Linked DNA regions of Homo sapiens: region 2 is linked to region 1. The links come from fine-mapping of genetic effects on gene expression. Tissue or cell type: whole blood. Region 1 holds a variant in brackets; the other region holds the start of a gene. All regions are shown on one strand. Distances are from middle to middle.

Region 1 (8,190 bases):
ACACAAGAAGCCAATAAACATGAAAAAACGATAAAAGTTTACTAATCGTTAGGGAAATGCAAATTGAAACTACAGTGTGATATTCAAGCACTAAAATGACTATGCCTACTCGTGACTAATATGAAAAAGATAAAAACAGTAATGTTGGCTAGGATGTGAAGCAACAGGACCTTTCATACACTGATGGTCAGAATATAAATTCATACAACCACTTTGAAATACTGTTTGGTAGTATCTACTAAAGTTGGTCATACACATAGCAACAGTTGCATTCCTGGCTTTAAACCCAACAGAAATGTTTACATATGTTCACCAAAAGACATTTTTAAGATTGTTCATAGAAGCACTGTTTCTAATCATCCCAAAATGGAAAGATGCCTATTGGCAATAGAATGGATAATTAAATTGTGGCATATTCATATAGCAAAATACTGTACAGTAATAAGTGAACAGACTACAGCTACACAGCGATATGGATGAATCTCATAAACAGAGTGTTTAGTAAAAGAAGCCAGACACAAAAGTATACAAACTTTGTGATTTTATTTATACAAATTTAAAACAGATAAATCAGTCATTTCTTTAAGCTATATATTAGTAATTTATGTTCTTTTTTGTAGGTAAATACAAGTTTCAGAAACATTAAAAAAATCAGTTAAAGTGGTTCTGGTCTTGTTCCATATGATATTTGGAGGTTCGAAATTTGGCCAGAAATGGCAGGGTTTCTTTTTTTACAATTCTCTCATCAGCTTCTGACTTTCTAAAAATCCTTACTTAACAATGTAAATCTTTTAGAGTAGTTTTCAGATGCCATCAGTGTCTTTGCAAAATGAGGGTCTGCTTTCATTTCCTTTTAGGTCACCAGTAGTTATAATTCATCTTAAGATATTAATTTCAATGCAAAAACAAAGCTTAGATTTACTTTTAAATCAGTAATTATCATCTCAGATAATACTTTATAATGTATAGTATATAAATACTTCACTAAAAATGCTATGGTCAAACACTTGTTTTTGTTCCTCGTCTTTAGGTGGTTTTAGAAATTTGCACACTATTGTTCTGGGAGCTTGCAAAAATGCTCTTGAAGTAGATCTTGGTTACCTCATCATTACTGCTGCCCGTAGGTATGTTTCCTCTTTGTATTGTGTCTCTCACTTTAGAAGTAATTATGTTTTTCCCTATTTTACAAAAAATTGTGGAATGTGTGTGTATATATGTGTGTACATTTGATCAAGCCTTGTTCAAATTTAAAATACGAAGAAGTCCAAATAACAGATAAGTATAACATCATGGTAGTCTTAATGTTATAACTGGTAACCAGTTGAGCTGCATACTAGCAAGCTCCAGAGTGGCATGGTCTCATATCAGAGAAAAGCAGTGGAATTTCTGGAAATGGCTGAGAGTCCAATAGAAGTTAGCATTGAAGCTCTGGTGTCTGTAGCCCTCTCAGGACCATTGTCTCCATCTCTGGATGATTTTCTGAATTGTTCTAGTTACTTGGTGATAATATTTGCTATTCAGAAATCAGTGTTTTAAATCAGCTTTTCCAAAGTCTGACCTTGTAACACCTCTATATTTTTTAACCAAGTGGTTATATCACTTTATGCCACATTTACTATTTCTTACATATCAATGGTCTACCTCCACTTTTATTTTATAATATTTTCTTTAAGCATTTTTAAAATTTATTCAGAAACAAAGCTTTTTCCATCAAGAGACTTGATTAGGATTATAAATAAAAGTGTTTCTAAGTTTAGGTAGGTATTGTTACCTACTACAGAATTATACTCTTTGTTAAAATGCAACATTAATAGCTAGCCTAAGCAAAATGTCAAATACCAGCACCAGATGCAGATTCTCACATTGACTCTTCAGGTTTAGTAAAGCACTTGAAAGGATATAAGATTCTTACCTGTAATTAATTGTTATTTAATGTATAGCTTCAGTGTACTGCTTAAGATTTCCTTACACTTTGCAGATACTCCTTTGAAGAAAATATTTTTTTTTTCAATGGAGGAAGTGGGAGGGAAGTTGTTGACATCTGTGACACTTCACTAAAGTCATGAACTTCTTTCAGAGTCTTACTGATATGGTTTGGCTCTGTTTCTCCTCAGATCTCATCTTGCAGCTCCCATAATTCCCATGTGTTGTGAGAGGGACCCAGTGGGAGATGACTGAATCATGGGGGTGGTCTTTCCCATGCTGTCCTCATGATAGTGAATAAGTCTCACTAGATCCAATGGTTTTAAAAATGGGAGTGTCCCTGCACAGCCTCTCTTTTTTTGCCTGCTGCCATCAGGCAAAAATGTGACTTGCTGCCATCAGTCAAGATGTGACTTGCTCCTTTTTGCCTTCAGCCATGTTCGTGAGGCCTCCCCAGCCATGTGGAACTGTGAGTCCATTAAAACCTCTTTTTCTTCCCAGTCTCAGGTACGTCTTTGTCAGCAGCATAGAAACGGACTAATACACTTATATTAGGAGGAATCTTTGATTCTGATGGTTTTTGTTTTACTCTGATATGTTCTCTGTCTTTATTCACAGGTTACATGAAGTTCGGATCCAGCCTTCCCTAACCAAAGATGGTGTCTTTTCTGCCCTAAAGATGGCAGAGTTGGAGTTTCCCCAGTTTGAAACCCTTCATCTAGGATATGTAGATGAGTTTTTGCTACAGAGTAAGATTTATCCCATTTTAATTCCTAGAATTACTGTAAGAAATTTACTTGACAAACTGAAATCTGAATTGGGTTGTGCCATGTCTTTTTGAACATAAGACAACTTAAAATCTTAGGTGCTCTCACGTCTTGAAAAATAAACTTTTAAATTAGAAATGTCAGTGATTTTTTTTTCCATATTGCCTCTGATTTTAGCATATTATAGAAAATATAGTTACTAACAATACACCAGAAAAAGAACCTTATCTACATTTGATATTGTCTCCACTTTACTGCCCAAGTTTCTTTCCCATTCTGCTTCATTTTTTTCACAGAATGTCATCCTTGGTTCCATTGTTGAATTTGATCTGCCACACTTCTTGAAGCTTTTGATGGTCCTCTCAGATGAGGTCCCATTCCCTGCCCATGCTCTTCATTTCCATAATAAGCCCGCTGGGGGTTCTGGATTTTCCAGATAGTGTGAGCACATAATGGTCAGTATTCATTTAATGATGATTGCTGTTGGAAAGCTTGTTCACAGCATTTTCTTAC[C/G]CATTTACAATTGAGAACTCATTTCTTTGGGTTTGAATGCATGTCAATTCATTACTCAAACTATTTTTCCATATGGCATCAATAAGATATGAAAGAAAATTTTCATCACCAACATGCTTTTATTTATTCAAGAATTCATTTTCTTCCCACCTGATTTGCAACAAGTCTTTCTTGAACTCTCATCCTCATAGCAGATAACATTTTTTCTTTGGATCTAGTTTGTATTATAGAAGAACATAAGAAGGCTTAATTCTTCCATTCAGGACAATCCAGCTCAAAAAACATGACTGTTTTTCATTTCTAATATATATTACAATAATAGTTGTGGGTTTTTTGTTTGTTTACTTTTTTGTTTTTCACAGTACTCATTAATATAGGTGATTACTTTAAAAAGTCAAGCCATCCTTTTCTAGACAGTTTACTATTAGAATCATGTTAAATCTGTATAGCTTTGAAAAAGATCAGCTTTTCTCCAAAATAGCTTTAAAATGCTAATGAGTACAATGATTTTATATAAAATTAATACATTTGATATCAAGCTTTTCTGGTTTTGAATGAAGTATCTAACATTCCCTATGTTTCTGCAATGTCTGTATAGTAACAAAATTATTAGCTTTGAAATTGATATTCTTTCTATAATTTTGTTTTCTATTTTTCCCAAAAGCTCAGAACTTGACAAATTGTGTACCTTCAGGATGGCCAAATTTAGGTCTACTGAAGAATTGTCTTCAAGTGTTAACTTCATAACCAATTATTTTCCTGTAGTGTTTCTTTCTCCTCAACATATGTTTTCAATAGCATAAAAATACCTTCTTGACTACCATTATCTCGTAGTTTTCAACACAACTTGTTTCATGTTCTGTTTCATACTTAATAGTCTGTTATGTTGAACTTTGTACATTCATTTTCTTATTTGCCACAGTTTAACCATTTCTTCCATATGCATACTATCTTCTGTCCCTCCAAAGATGACCTAGGATTCTCTGTTTCAGAATAGGTGCCTGGTACTTGTTATGGACGATATCATGAGGTCACTGCTCACTCACACTCTCTCACTTAGTTTCTCTCTTCTCAGTAATTTAGATTTGAAGCATCTCTCCAAGAAGTGGTGGCTGGCCTCTGGTAAAACTTGAGTCACTTTCTTGTTATAAAAGGTCTGGCAGAATAAATAAATAGAAACATCACCTTTGTCTTCTGACAGTGACCCAAAGATGAATCTTTAGAGAGTTCTTTGTTCATGTGGATTTATGATCTGTAAGCTTTATATAATACTGATAGAGACGTATAACTCAGTGAAAATTTCAGAAACAATATAGTCCTAGCCCTAGAGTTCTAGCAATTTAGTCCTAGAGCTTGAGGGAGAGAGAGAATTGAGGCCTGTCTGCTACTAATCATGAGACCTAAGCAAGTTAATTCTCATTTTTTAAATGAAGATAAGGTGGTATCCTGCTTTTCTCTTGGGTAGCTCTGAGGAACCAAGGGAAAAGTGATGTATACATTTACAGTAATCTCTGACACTTAGGAAGTATTCAATAAATGATAACTTTTACCTTTAGCTCACCTGTGGGCTGAAAAGAAAAACAAAAATGAATCTCAAGTAATATCATCAGGATTTTGAAAGGAGTGTGTCAAGCAGGAAGCCCCAAGAGTAGAAACATGGTGTTCATCTCAAAAAACTAAATGCAAGACATCGATTTGTCATGTTAGGTTACAGCATTTATTCAGATAGTGCCCAGGAAACAGGGTCAGTTCAAGGTTTACCCTATCTTAAGGAAAATGGTAAGTTTCATCTGAAGTCCTAAGAGCAGGGAAATGATCCTTACCAGGAGCTAAAGAAAATAGTTCAGCTAAATTGTAAAGGATGGATTAAGGTGAAATTTGTAAGATGTGCCAGGAGATACCAAATATAGGAACTATAGGAGAAAGACTGTCAACTATATGGAAAGTAAAATTGGAAGTTTGGAGAAGATGGATTGTTTTTAACATGTTGTAGCTAAAGTTGTAAATCCCTGTGATATTCAGGGCAGCTTCACCAGAGTGGCAGTGTTTTTTTTTTGTCCTGCATATTGGTTGATTGCAGACTGTGAGAGACGTATTCCCATGAGCTCTTGTATCCCCAGCACTATGCTAGACACTAAAGATGTAACTATGAACTAACAGAATCTTGGAGCGTGAGGGGGCAGGCAGATGGGAGAAATGATAAGAGGCAAGGGATGAGGTGTGATTCTTAGTGACATGATCTAGAATAAAGGATCCTCCTTTACTTATTCCCAAACCCCTAGTTTGTGACCAGAGAGTAGGCACTAAAGCCCAGTGGCATGTGTTTGAGTTAGAAGTGCACTTTTAGGGTATAGATAGATGTTACTAACCAGTGCCATGGGTTCTAACAATGAATCTTAAATTCTCAGAGTTTACCTTTCTCTACACATGTCCACACTGGGCTCCAAGAACATCATTTTATTGTAAGGGAGTTGAGTTTTTAAGATTTTGTTTTCCTTTTAAATGATAAAGCTAAAACTTTACCATGGTATGAACCAGTATGATAGATCCTTCACTTATGCTTTAAGAATTTTTGCCTTTTCTCTTCTCTAAACAATTGGAAATAATTTTTCCTACTAGCTGTCCCTTGACTTTTAATATAATTTATTATTTTGTACAAGAAGTGCTACCATATGTACGGAATACCTAACCTAAAATTATACCTGAACCCAATGATAAGCAGATGATACAGAATGATGGTAGAGACTTTTTATACTGACTGGTAAGATACAAAGTTGGTAACACTCCCTAACACTTAAGAATTTGACTTTTTTTTTTTTTAATTGATTGCTCTTTTTAGGCAGAATGGCTAATGCGGATCTGGTGAAGTATGGTTTGGCTGATGTGGTAGAAAATCCTGGTATCATCACTGATATAGGGATGAAAGCAGTCAATGAAGTTTTTTCCTGTATCAAATATCTGGCAATTTACAATTGCCCTCATCTACACAACCCATACAATTGGATCTCAGGTATTACAGACTTAAAAATACAGCTATGTTTTATTGATACTGAAATAATACAACTTTCCATGTTTTCTATGTGTGATATGATTGCATTCCTAATGTAAAATGTAGGTATTTCATTTGGATTGTTCATACAAGTTCTGGTAACCTTTGATAACCAAGTTGGAAGTATATTCAATGCCTCTTTAAACTTCTGACGTTCTCTGCCTAGAAGTGTATACTCTCCAGGTTGTGGATTCAAGTGCCCTGATTTTTATATGTACTTCTTTGGGCTAGGAACATAAAATTAAGGTTAGTTCATTGTTACCTAGGACTTAGGATATTGTAGTTATTTTCTCAGAATTATCTTCACAATAGCACATCATCTGAAAGGACAAAGTAGGTATGTATGTTGAACTTTAATTAAGTGACATTAACCTGAGATAAAAATTTCTATTGACTAGAAATCCCAGTCTATTTCAGATCTCCCCCTCCAATCTCCTATATGTAGAAGTGTGACTTTTGCACTTGATATTTTTCCCTTATGGTGGGAGTTCATTTTCCTCTCAGAGTAATGTCATCTGTTTTCTTAAAGGCCCTTCTTAGATACCGAAATTTACAAACCATTAAATAAATTGAGAGCCTGAAAAAGTTGTACTTGTGACAAAGCCTCTCACTGACACCTACAGAACAGCCTCCTCTGCTATTGAGTCACTTGACCGGGATCTGTATCTCCTCACAAAGCTACTATCCAGGCCTATTTTAGGGCTCTGGGACCTCTGCTGAGATCACTCGTTAATATAGTCATGTCTCATGTGCCAGCAGCAGTTAAATTCTATCCCTGGCCCTGCTGAACCAAGAAGTTATTGGGAAATATGAACTTTAGGATGTAGCAGGCGTAGATGACTTTAAAAAAATAACATTTATTGGGTTTTTGGTTTGTTTGTTTTCTTAAATACAGAAGAGTATAAAGAAGAAAACAAAAAATGGCCTATAATCCCATCACTCAGAATTCCTGTTAACACTTAAAAAAATAAGTAATACATGCACTTGATAAATTTCAAACAGTACAGAAAGGTACAAAATGAAAACTCTCCTCTTCTCAAAGGTAACCATCATCAACAGTTTTTTGTATATTTTTCTGGACAAATTATGCATATTGCAGCATATATATGTGTAGCATTTAAAAATGATTTATATTATACCAAAGGATCTTACTCTGTATACACTGTCCTGTAGCTTGTTTTTTGTACTAAGTATAATTTGGAGAGTTTTCCATGTCAGCAAGCATATTAAGCTCTCCTTAATTCTTTTGAAATAGCTACATAATGTTCTATTAAATAAATATGCCATAATTTTTTAATTCAGTGTCCTATTGTTGAAAAGCCATGTAGGTTGTTGAGTGGATCACATTTAAATCAGGGCTGATTGGATTCAAATTAATGTTCCCCAGGCCATTTAGTTCTCACAATGGAATTAGGTATGTAAACATCATAATTTAGAATCATCGGGTTTTAGAAGTCATGAAAAAAAGGAAAAGTTATTTTAAAAAAAAGGATTTGAAAGTCTTTGTGACCTGTATCAAAATTCATCAGTAATGGGGAAAATGTTACTTAGATTTTCTCTGGTCATGTCATTTCTTTAACAGACCACTCAAGATGGACTCGATTGGTTGATATCAACCTAGTACGGTGCCATGCTTTGAAGCTGGACTCTTTTGGCCAGTTTATTGAATTATTACCCAGCCTAGAGTTTATTTCACTGGATCAGATGTTTCGTGAACCACCCAAGGTAAGATACATTTGAGGGAGTTTTTGTTTATTTTGATAGGAAAGAAAATAAAAACAGCCTGTGATTTTTTTTTTTTTTTCTTTTCAATGATATGCCTTTACGGTGTTACAGTCGGACTTTTTACTGCCAGCCTCAGTGAAGGCATAAAGGTTGTAATAATGCATAGCCTCTCATTCTTCTAAATGAGAATTAAGGGTTCTCTGGGGAAGGGTA
Region 2 (8,190 bases), 28 kb before region 1:
TGGAACCTTTGTACACTGTTGATGAGAATGTAAAACAGTGTAACTGCTATGGAAGAGTATGGTGGCTCCTCAAAAAATTAAAAATAGAATTATCCTATGATTCAACAATCCCACTTCTGCATCTATATGCCAAAAGATGAAAACAAGATCTCAATAAGATATTTACACTCTCATGTTTATTCCAGCATTATTCATAATAACCAAAATGTGGAAGTAACCCAAATGCCCATTGATGGATGAATAGAAAATGTGATATATACAGGCAATGGAATATTATTCAGCCTTAAAACCTTGAGGACTTCATACTAAGTGAAATAAGTCAGTCACAAAAAGACAAAGTGTGTGAAGCTACTTCTATGAGGTATTTAATGTAGTCAAACTCAGAAACAGGATGTAAAACTGTGGTTTCCAGAGCTAGGGTAGGAGAAAATGGAGAGCTCTTGTTCAATGGACATAGAGTATCAGTCTCGCAATGAAAAAGTTCTAGAGATCTGCTGAACAACGTGAATATGGTTGATACTACTGAACTGTACACTTAAAAATGGGCTCAAAAATTTTTTTAGCTCCCACATATGAGTGAAAACATACAGTGTTTATCTTTCTGTGCCTGAGTTATTTCACTTAACATAATGTCCTCCAGGTTCATCCATATTGCCTCCAATGACAGGATTTCATCCTTTTGTATACATATTTTGTGTATATGTTCCACATTTTCTTTATTCATTCATCTGTTAATGGTAGGGTGAATACAGTTAATGATAGTTTATTGTATATTTTCAAGAAGCTAAAAGAGAGGATTTTGAATGTTTGCAACACAAAGATGATAAATGTTTGCGGTGAATGGATATGCTAATTAGCCTGCTTTGATCATTATAGATTGTATACATGTATTGAAATATCACTCTGTATCCCATGAATATGTACAATTATTATGCATTAACTAAAAACTAAAAATGAATGGAAATACATAACTAAAATGGTAAATTTTATGTTATGTGTTTTTAATCACAATGAAAAATAAACAACAAATAAATAACATAAAGAATGAATTGATAAACAAAATGTGAAATATATATGCAGTGGAACATTATTCAGATTTAAAAAGGAATTAAATTCTAAATACATGCTACAACATGGATGAACCCTGAAGATATTATGCTAAGTGAAAAAATTCAGACATAAAATGACAAATATTGTTATGATTCCACTTATATGAGTACCTAGAGTGGTCAAAATCATAGAGTCAAAAAGTAGAATGGTGGCTGCCAGGGACTGGGGGAAGGAGAGCATAGGGAATTGTTGTTTAAAGAGTTTCAGTTTGGGAAGATAGAAAAGTTATGATGATTGGCGGCGGTGGTGTTTGCACAATAATGTGAATGTGCATAATTCCACTGAACTGTATACTTAAAGAGGTTAAAATGACAAATATATATATTTTGCCACAATTTTTCTTAAAAAATAATGTATGACATTATTCATGCACAAATGCAAGACTGGGCTGGAGGGACTACAAGCCTTACTTTTTGATGCTTGTGCTAATATTCATACATCCAAAAATCTAAAAATTAAAAACAATGAGGTAGTGTGGTAAATTACAGATGGCCACAAAGTCTTTGCTACATCTTCAATTAAGAGGTGGACTCTTATTCTTCTCTTGAATCTGGGCTGGCTTAGTGGCTTTTTTGACCTAACACGACGTGATGGAAGTCACTCCTGGGACTGCAGAGGCTACATTATATGAAGTTTTGTAGCTTCCTCCTGTTTTGCTTGGAACAGCTCCCTTTTTTCCCATTCTACCTCCAAGTGCTCCCTGTCAAAACCCAAACACCACGGTATAAGAAACCCAAATCAGAGGGAAAGCCCAAGTGTAGGCACTCTGATAAATAGCTCCAACTGAGCATCTAGAGATCAGCCAGCCTCAACTGCCATCAATATAACATCTATTAGAGGCTGACATTAACTACAGCCCCAGTTTGATATCTGACTGTAAATGCCAGAGACTGCAAGCTAGGACTGCCCAGCCTAACCCAGTTACCCTACAGAATCAGGGCAGATAAAATTTTTAGCCACTAAATTCTGGAGTGACTTGTTACGTAGGTACCATAATGTCTATTTTAAAGAAACCTGAACCTTAGAGCTGAAGTGATTGCCCATTGTCTCTCTGCCAGTAAGCAGAGGAACTCACAGTTAACCAAGTCTTTCTGGTTCTAAAGCCTGCATTGCTGACTACTAAATACACAACTTCTCAGTCAAAACAGCTACAATAGTTTTTTTTTTTCCTTTTTACCTTCAAAAAAAATCCTGTATTTGAATTCATAGTGGAGTTCTGCCATATACGCCAAGTCTAAGGGTAGTTAAGAATAGCCTTGATATGCATAGCACCTTCTGCAGTTGTGCACTGAACAGGCTCCATAGCCATATGAACCTGTCCTGAGCAAACTCCAACCACTATCCCTGACCAAAACTTCTCTTGAGTATTAGTCATCATTTTAACAAAGGGATTATCTGTTGTTTAGGTACCTAAGGAATTTCAAGGAAGAACACGGGCTGATACTAGAACTCATGGAAGAATGAAAAGAGATACTTTAGAATTTAATTAAAAAGTGGGGATTGAAAATTAAAACAACACAGCGGTTTAAGGTCATTTACTGTAGGGCAAACTTTCCTGCAGCGCTCAGGGACCCCATGATGGTGCCACTGTACAGGAGAAATACTAACTCAGGACCTTTTTAATGAAAACCTGTAACATCAAGGTACAAATAAATCCTAGAGATGAAGGGATACATATAACATGCTCTACCTGAAAATGTTAAAACTAGTTTTGATATCTTATTATATATAACACTCATAGCAGTGAGAAAATATCTTTAACATTTATTACAATGATTTGTGGTAGGAAATTTTCTAAACTTGAGGTAGGAAACCTTTCTTACTCATGAGTATTCATTTCAGGTCCCACTACAGTGCTTTTTACAAAAGGAGGAATGCTAATAAAATGAAAATCATATTCCATTGAATTAAAAATTCAGGCCAATTGTGCTGAAATAAATCTTACTGAATGCCTTCTAAATATGCCATGCCCTGCACTAGAAACTTTCGTAATTCCTATTTATTCTTCAGAATAACCTGGGAAACAGAAAAAGCTAAAGTCTGTTTCCTTTATTAAAGTTTGAATATGAAGAAACCGACAGAAGCAAATAGCATAAAAATTCATTTTTGTCTTCAATTACAGGAAGAATGTAACATGAAAGCTGAGATTACAATGAATAGTACATGAATATGATGAGGTTTTGTTTTGTTTGTCCTACCAGAGCTCCAAATAAAAACACAGATATATGGTTTGACATACGGAATGGGATAGCTAAAACTGTGACTGCCTAAGACAAGCTGAAACCTAAGGTGCCGAACCATATTGGGGAAAGAGGGGAAAAACCAGTAGGTCTGCTATCAATCAAGAAAAGAATAAGAAGAAATGGGATTCCCAAGCCTTCTTCAGCTTTTTCTTCTCCAGCAGAATAGCCTAGTCAATGCTACGTCTTGTCAAATTGTGTCTCACATGGCTTTAATGCACACTAACTTTCCTAAGAAGTATTTGTATCTATTTAAATCTAGGGATTTTAGCCCATATTAATTACATGTATATTAGGGCAAGAACACAGGATGTAAAAGGTAAAAATCTGAATTTCAGTCCATCTGCGAGACATTGTGAAAATCAATTACACTCTCTGAAGACAATTCCTTATCCATTAAACAACAGAAAAGGTGATTAAGTTGATCCTTGCCTACATGTCAGAGTCGTGTAGAGTTTTTAATGACACTCATGTGAAATTCCTTTGGACTGTAAAATACTATTACTTACGTGCAAAGATAATGTCCCGAAATCACAGAAGGGATGACTTAACATTAACATCTTTAACTGCGCCCCCGTCCTTCCTCTCAAAAAAAAAAAGTTCTCTATTTTTAGTTGAATGATTCTGGGAAAATCTCTATTGGAACCTATCGACTTCGCAAATGACAAAGGCGAGGTCCAGAGACTTATCCAAGACCCCAGAGTACCAGTGGAAATCAAGACCAAACCACACGGTGGAGACTGGTTCCGACGTATCAGACTCAGTGCTTCCGGCATGGCGCTTTAGTGTCAGGTGAAAGAACAGCAACCCGCCCCGCTTCTCCACCCCTGACAAGCCTTCCGAAATGCCACGCTGAACATGGCTGCCGCGCTTCGATGCTTCTTCACACACACAATATGGACACGGGTTTGAGGCTCCAGCCCCGGATGACAACACTCCGGAAATATGCGAGCGGCGGCGGAAGCGGAAGTGCCTCAGCGGTAGGGGCCGGGGAAGTGTCTGTAGCGTCCCTCCCTCTCAACCACAATAACAGGCGGAGGGTCGGCGTAGGTGAGGCGGCGGCTGAGTGGGCCTGGGGACCGGGAGCGGGGTGGCAAAGCCCGGAGTGCGTGCGGCAGGGCTGAGGTAGCTGGGTGGGGATTCTGGAACTTCCGACCGCTTAAGCTCGGCCTCTGGCCCCCTTGGGGCCTAGAGCTCCTTGAGAGATCAGGGGTTGAATTTGTAGTTCCTGGCCTTCTAGGCCGTGCTTGCGGGGGTTGCCTGCTTGTCTGAACCTGGCCCCAAAATCCAGCATAAAGAACTCTCTCTGGGCCCCAGTTTCCTCAATGAAATGGGTGAGGGTGTTGGACTGGACAGCTTCTGTGACTGTCTCCCACCCCGGGCGTCACGAATTTCATGATTTTAATGTTAAGTCGGTGTTTCGGCCAGTAAAGTGAAGGAGGTCTGTGTTCAGCGTAGTGAGGAGATGTCCCTGAGCAGGAAGCAGTGAACACATCTTTGGCTGCCACGCCTGAGTATCAGGAGCCCTGAATTCTAGTTTCACCCCTTCCACCTACACACCGTGTGACCTTGTCTAGGTCCATTAGCTTTTCTGTGCTGCAGTTTGCTTATCTGTGTTGGATGCCTTTGATGTCCGTGCCCTAGCTGTGGAAATCAGATTCTTAACTCCCTTTTCATGGAGTCTTTACAGACCTGAAAAGCATATTCTCCCTGCACTCTGCACACCCAGAATTTGACTAAGAGATGTCTACCGTGTTTCTTTGCAGACACCAAGCTGGCCAAGGGCAACTGGTCACTTAGGAAGGTTCCTGTGCAATGAGAAGCTCTGTCCAGAAAACTTTGTTTTATACACCTAAACCAGCAGTGTAAATCACTACAAAGTGAAAAACAGGAGACCTTGATTTTTGTTCCAAAGTTGCTATTAACTTGATGGTTTACTTTGGCCAAATCCCTTCCTCTCTCTGAACTTGAGATTTTTTTATCTGCTAAAGGAAGACGTTGGATTAGGTCACTGGTTTTTAATCCCCTTTCCCATTCCCCCAGCACAAGTGAAGGATAAAATAATAGTTCTATAAAGCCATGATTTTCCCAGGGAAGGAGGAGGTCCAGTCTGGAGGGTATGTATTACATAGGCATAGACTGAAAAAAATCCGCTTGTAATTTTTAACTTTCATTTTGAGAATTAACATTTTAGATTATCTGTAAGCCTTCTTTCCCCTCTTTAAAATATGTGATGCTGTAATTCTGATGTCCTCCTTGGGTAAAGAATGTAGAGTTTTGTGTGCCTCTTTGTTTAAATGGCTGTGTGCCCAGAGGTACACACTTTATATTTAGTCAAACAGATACTAATGCATAGCAGAGGAGAAAAAGGGACAACTAGATTCCAGTAAGATAGGGTGATATAGTGAAGTAAAATTGGTGGTATACTAAAATGAAATAAGGTGGTATAGTGAAATAAAATTAAAAAGGAGTTGAAGACCTGTATCCCTGCTTCACACTGGTACATCCTGCCTCTGTGACTTTGGACAAGCCATCTAACATCTCTAGGCCTCACTTTCCTTATCTGTAAAACGAAGGGTTGAGCTGGATGATTCCTAGGCCTTTTTCAGCACCATCATCCTGTTGGGGGGTTTTTGTTTTGTTTTGTTTGTGTGTGGTTTTTATCTGAGCAGTTTGGTTTATGTGGTGTGGTATTTCTTTAGACAAGAGAGGCTGTCCTGGTCAGTAGATACACAAGATAGTCTATGATGTCAATTAAGGTCTGTGAGGTCAAATTAAGTGATATGCAAGATTACTTTGATATGAGCAAGCTGAAACCAATAGAAACTAAAGAAAGGCATGAGAAACTTGAAGGGCAGGGAAGCCCTTGACCAGATAGGATCATTGAGAATATAGGGAAGTTTCAAGTGAGAGGGGGTATTTTTCACGAGGGTAAAGAAAAGTAATTTGAGTTTGGGATGGGAAGGAGATTTGAATTGACGAGATAGGAGAACACTTTTTGGAAACAACTCTGGTTTAAGAATGTGCTTGCAACACCAAGACAAAAGTAATGCTTCCTGTGGCTAAGGTCAGCTAAGCAGGCAGCCACAGAGTGACTGTAATATACCAAAGGTGGCCATAGACCACTGCATGGGAGCCTAAATTAAATGGACCATAAATCCTAATTGGTGAAGGTAGGGTGTGGTCAGATGCAGTTCTATCAGAGCATCTAGAAGCCTTTCTCCAAGCACTAGGGCATTGCTCTGGAATGCAGGAAGACAACCACAGTGACAGAGGACTGACTTGATGATAGAATGTTTACTGTAACCTGGGAAGTCTGTATCCCAGCCTGAACCTTGACACTATTTAATCTTGGGCAAGTGATTTGTCACCTTATCCTCTCTGGTTCTGTTTGTTCATCTTAAAAATTTGGGATCACTAGATGAGCTTCGATGTCTGTGAATATGAACCCCCTGAAATCGTGTATGTATTTCTGCTTGCATGAGTCTGGAAAACGGATGTGCCACTTTCATCGTATTCTCAGATGGGTTTGTGACCCACAAAAAATTGAGAACTGTGTGATTAGGTAGTGTCTCTGGTCCTCTTCAACTTTTAACATTCTGGGATTCTGTAATTCTGTCATTTCTGACATTTCCTTAAGGTTCAGAGTCTTAGGGTCTAGAAGTTGCTAAGCCTATAGGTAACACCTGGTACCGCAAAGTATAGTCTTTATATATAATACTCTCCTCCTTATTTATTCAGGCATAGCTCAGAGATACTGCAGGTTTGGTTCCAGACTACTGCAATAAAGCAAGTCACAAAGTTTTTGGTTTCCCTGTGTATATAGAAGTTATATTTTACAATGTAGTATAATCTATCAAGTGTGCAACAGCATTATATCTAAAGTAATGTATACGCCATAATTTTAAAGTACTTAATTTAAAAAAAATGCTAACAATTAATCTGAGCCTTCAGCGAGTCATAATATTTTTGTTAATGGAAGATCTTGTCTCTGTCTTGGTGGCTGCTGACTGATCAGGGTGGTGGTTGCAGAACATTGGGGTGGCTTGGCAGTTTCTTAGGACAACAGTGAAGTTTGCCTCATTGATTGGCTCTTCCTTCTAGGAAATATTTTGTTGTAACATGCGATGTATGATAGCATTTTACTCACAGTAGAACTTCTTTCAAAATTACATTCAGTTCTCTCAAACCCTGGTGCTGCCGTATCAACTGAGTTTATGTAGTATTCTAAATCCTTTGTTGTCATTTCAATAATGTTCACAGCATCTTCACCAGAAGTAGATTTCATCTCAACAAACCACTTTCTTTGTTCATCTATAAGAAGCAACTTCTCATCTGTTCAAGTTTTATCATGAGATTGCAGCAATTCAGTCACATCTTCAGGCTCTACATCCGATTGTAGTTCTCTTGCTATTTCCTCCACATCTGCAGCGACTTCCTCCACTGATGTCTTTTGTTGTTTATTATTTCAATCCTGCTCCTCCTATAACCACAGAAGTCTTGAATCCCTCAGAGTCATCCATGAGGACTGGATTCCAAACTCTTGTTAATGTTGATATTTTGACCTCCTCCCATGAATCACAGACGTTCTTAACAGCTTCTAGAATGTGTATCCTTTCCAGAAGGTTTTGAATTTAGTTTGCCCATATCCATCAGAGGAATCACAGTCTATGGCAGCTATAGCCTTAGGGAATTTATTTCTTTTTTTTTTTTTTTTTTTTGAGATGGAGTCTAGCTCTGTTACCAGGCTCGAGTGCAGTCGTACGATCTTGGCTCACTGCAACCTCTGACACCCTGGTTCAAGCAATTCTCCTGCCTCAGCCTCCCAGGTGGCTGGGAT

Evidence for each region. PIP is the estimated chance that this variant, and not a neighbour inherited with it, causes the effect.
Region 2: it holds the start of FBXO38, and the variant in region 1 is fine-mapped to the expression of FBXO38 in whole blood (INTERVAL, PIP above 0.99). The same link has a PIP of 0.9 or more in blood mononuclear cells, lung and tibial artery.

Annotation. Positions count from the first base shown.
Region 1 is chr5:148,408,094-148,416,283 of GRCh38, forward strand. It overlaps FBXO38 (F-box protein 38), which reads left to right. Exons shown (of 22, transcript NM_205836.3): 8 at 1,031-1,124; 9 at 2,542-2,672; 10 at 6,043-6,213; 11 at 7,835-7,977. Among named protein-coding and RNA genes, the nearest start is that of FBXO38, 28 kb to the left of the region's middle. The variant C/G (reference allele first, on the strand shown) is at 3,204.
Region 2 is chr5:148,379,640-148,387,829 of GRCh38, forward strand. It overlaps FBXO38 (F-box protein 38), which reads left to right and starts at 4,319. Exons shown (of 22, transcript NM_205836.3): 1 at 4,319-4,400. It overlaps FBXO38-DT (FBXO38 divergent transcript), which reads right to left and starts at 4,211. Exons shown (of 5, transcript NR_105057.1): 1 at 3,860-4,211. RefSeq lists an enhancer at 4,096-4,295.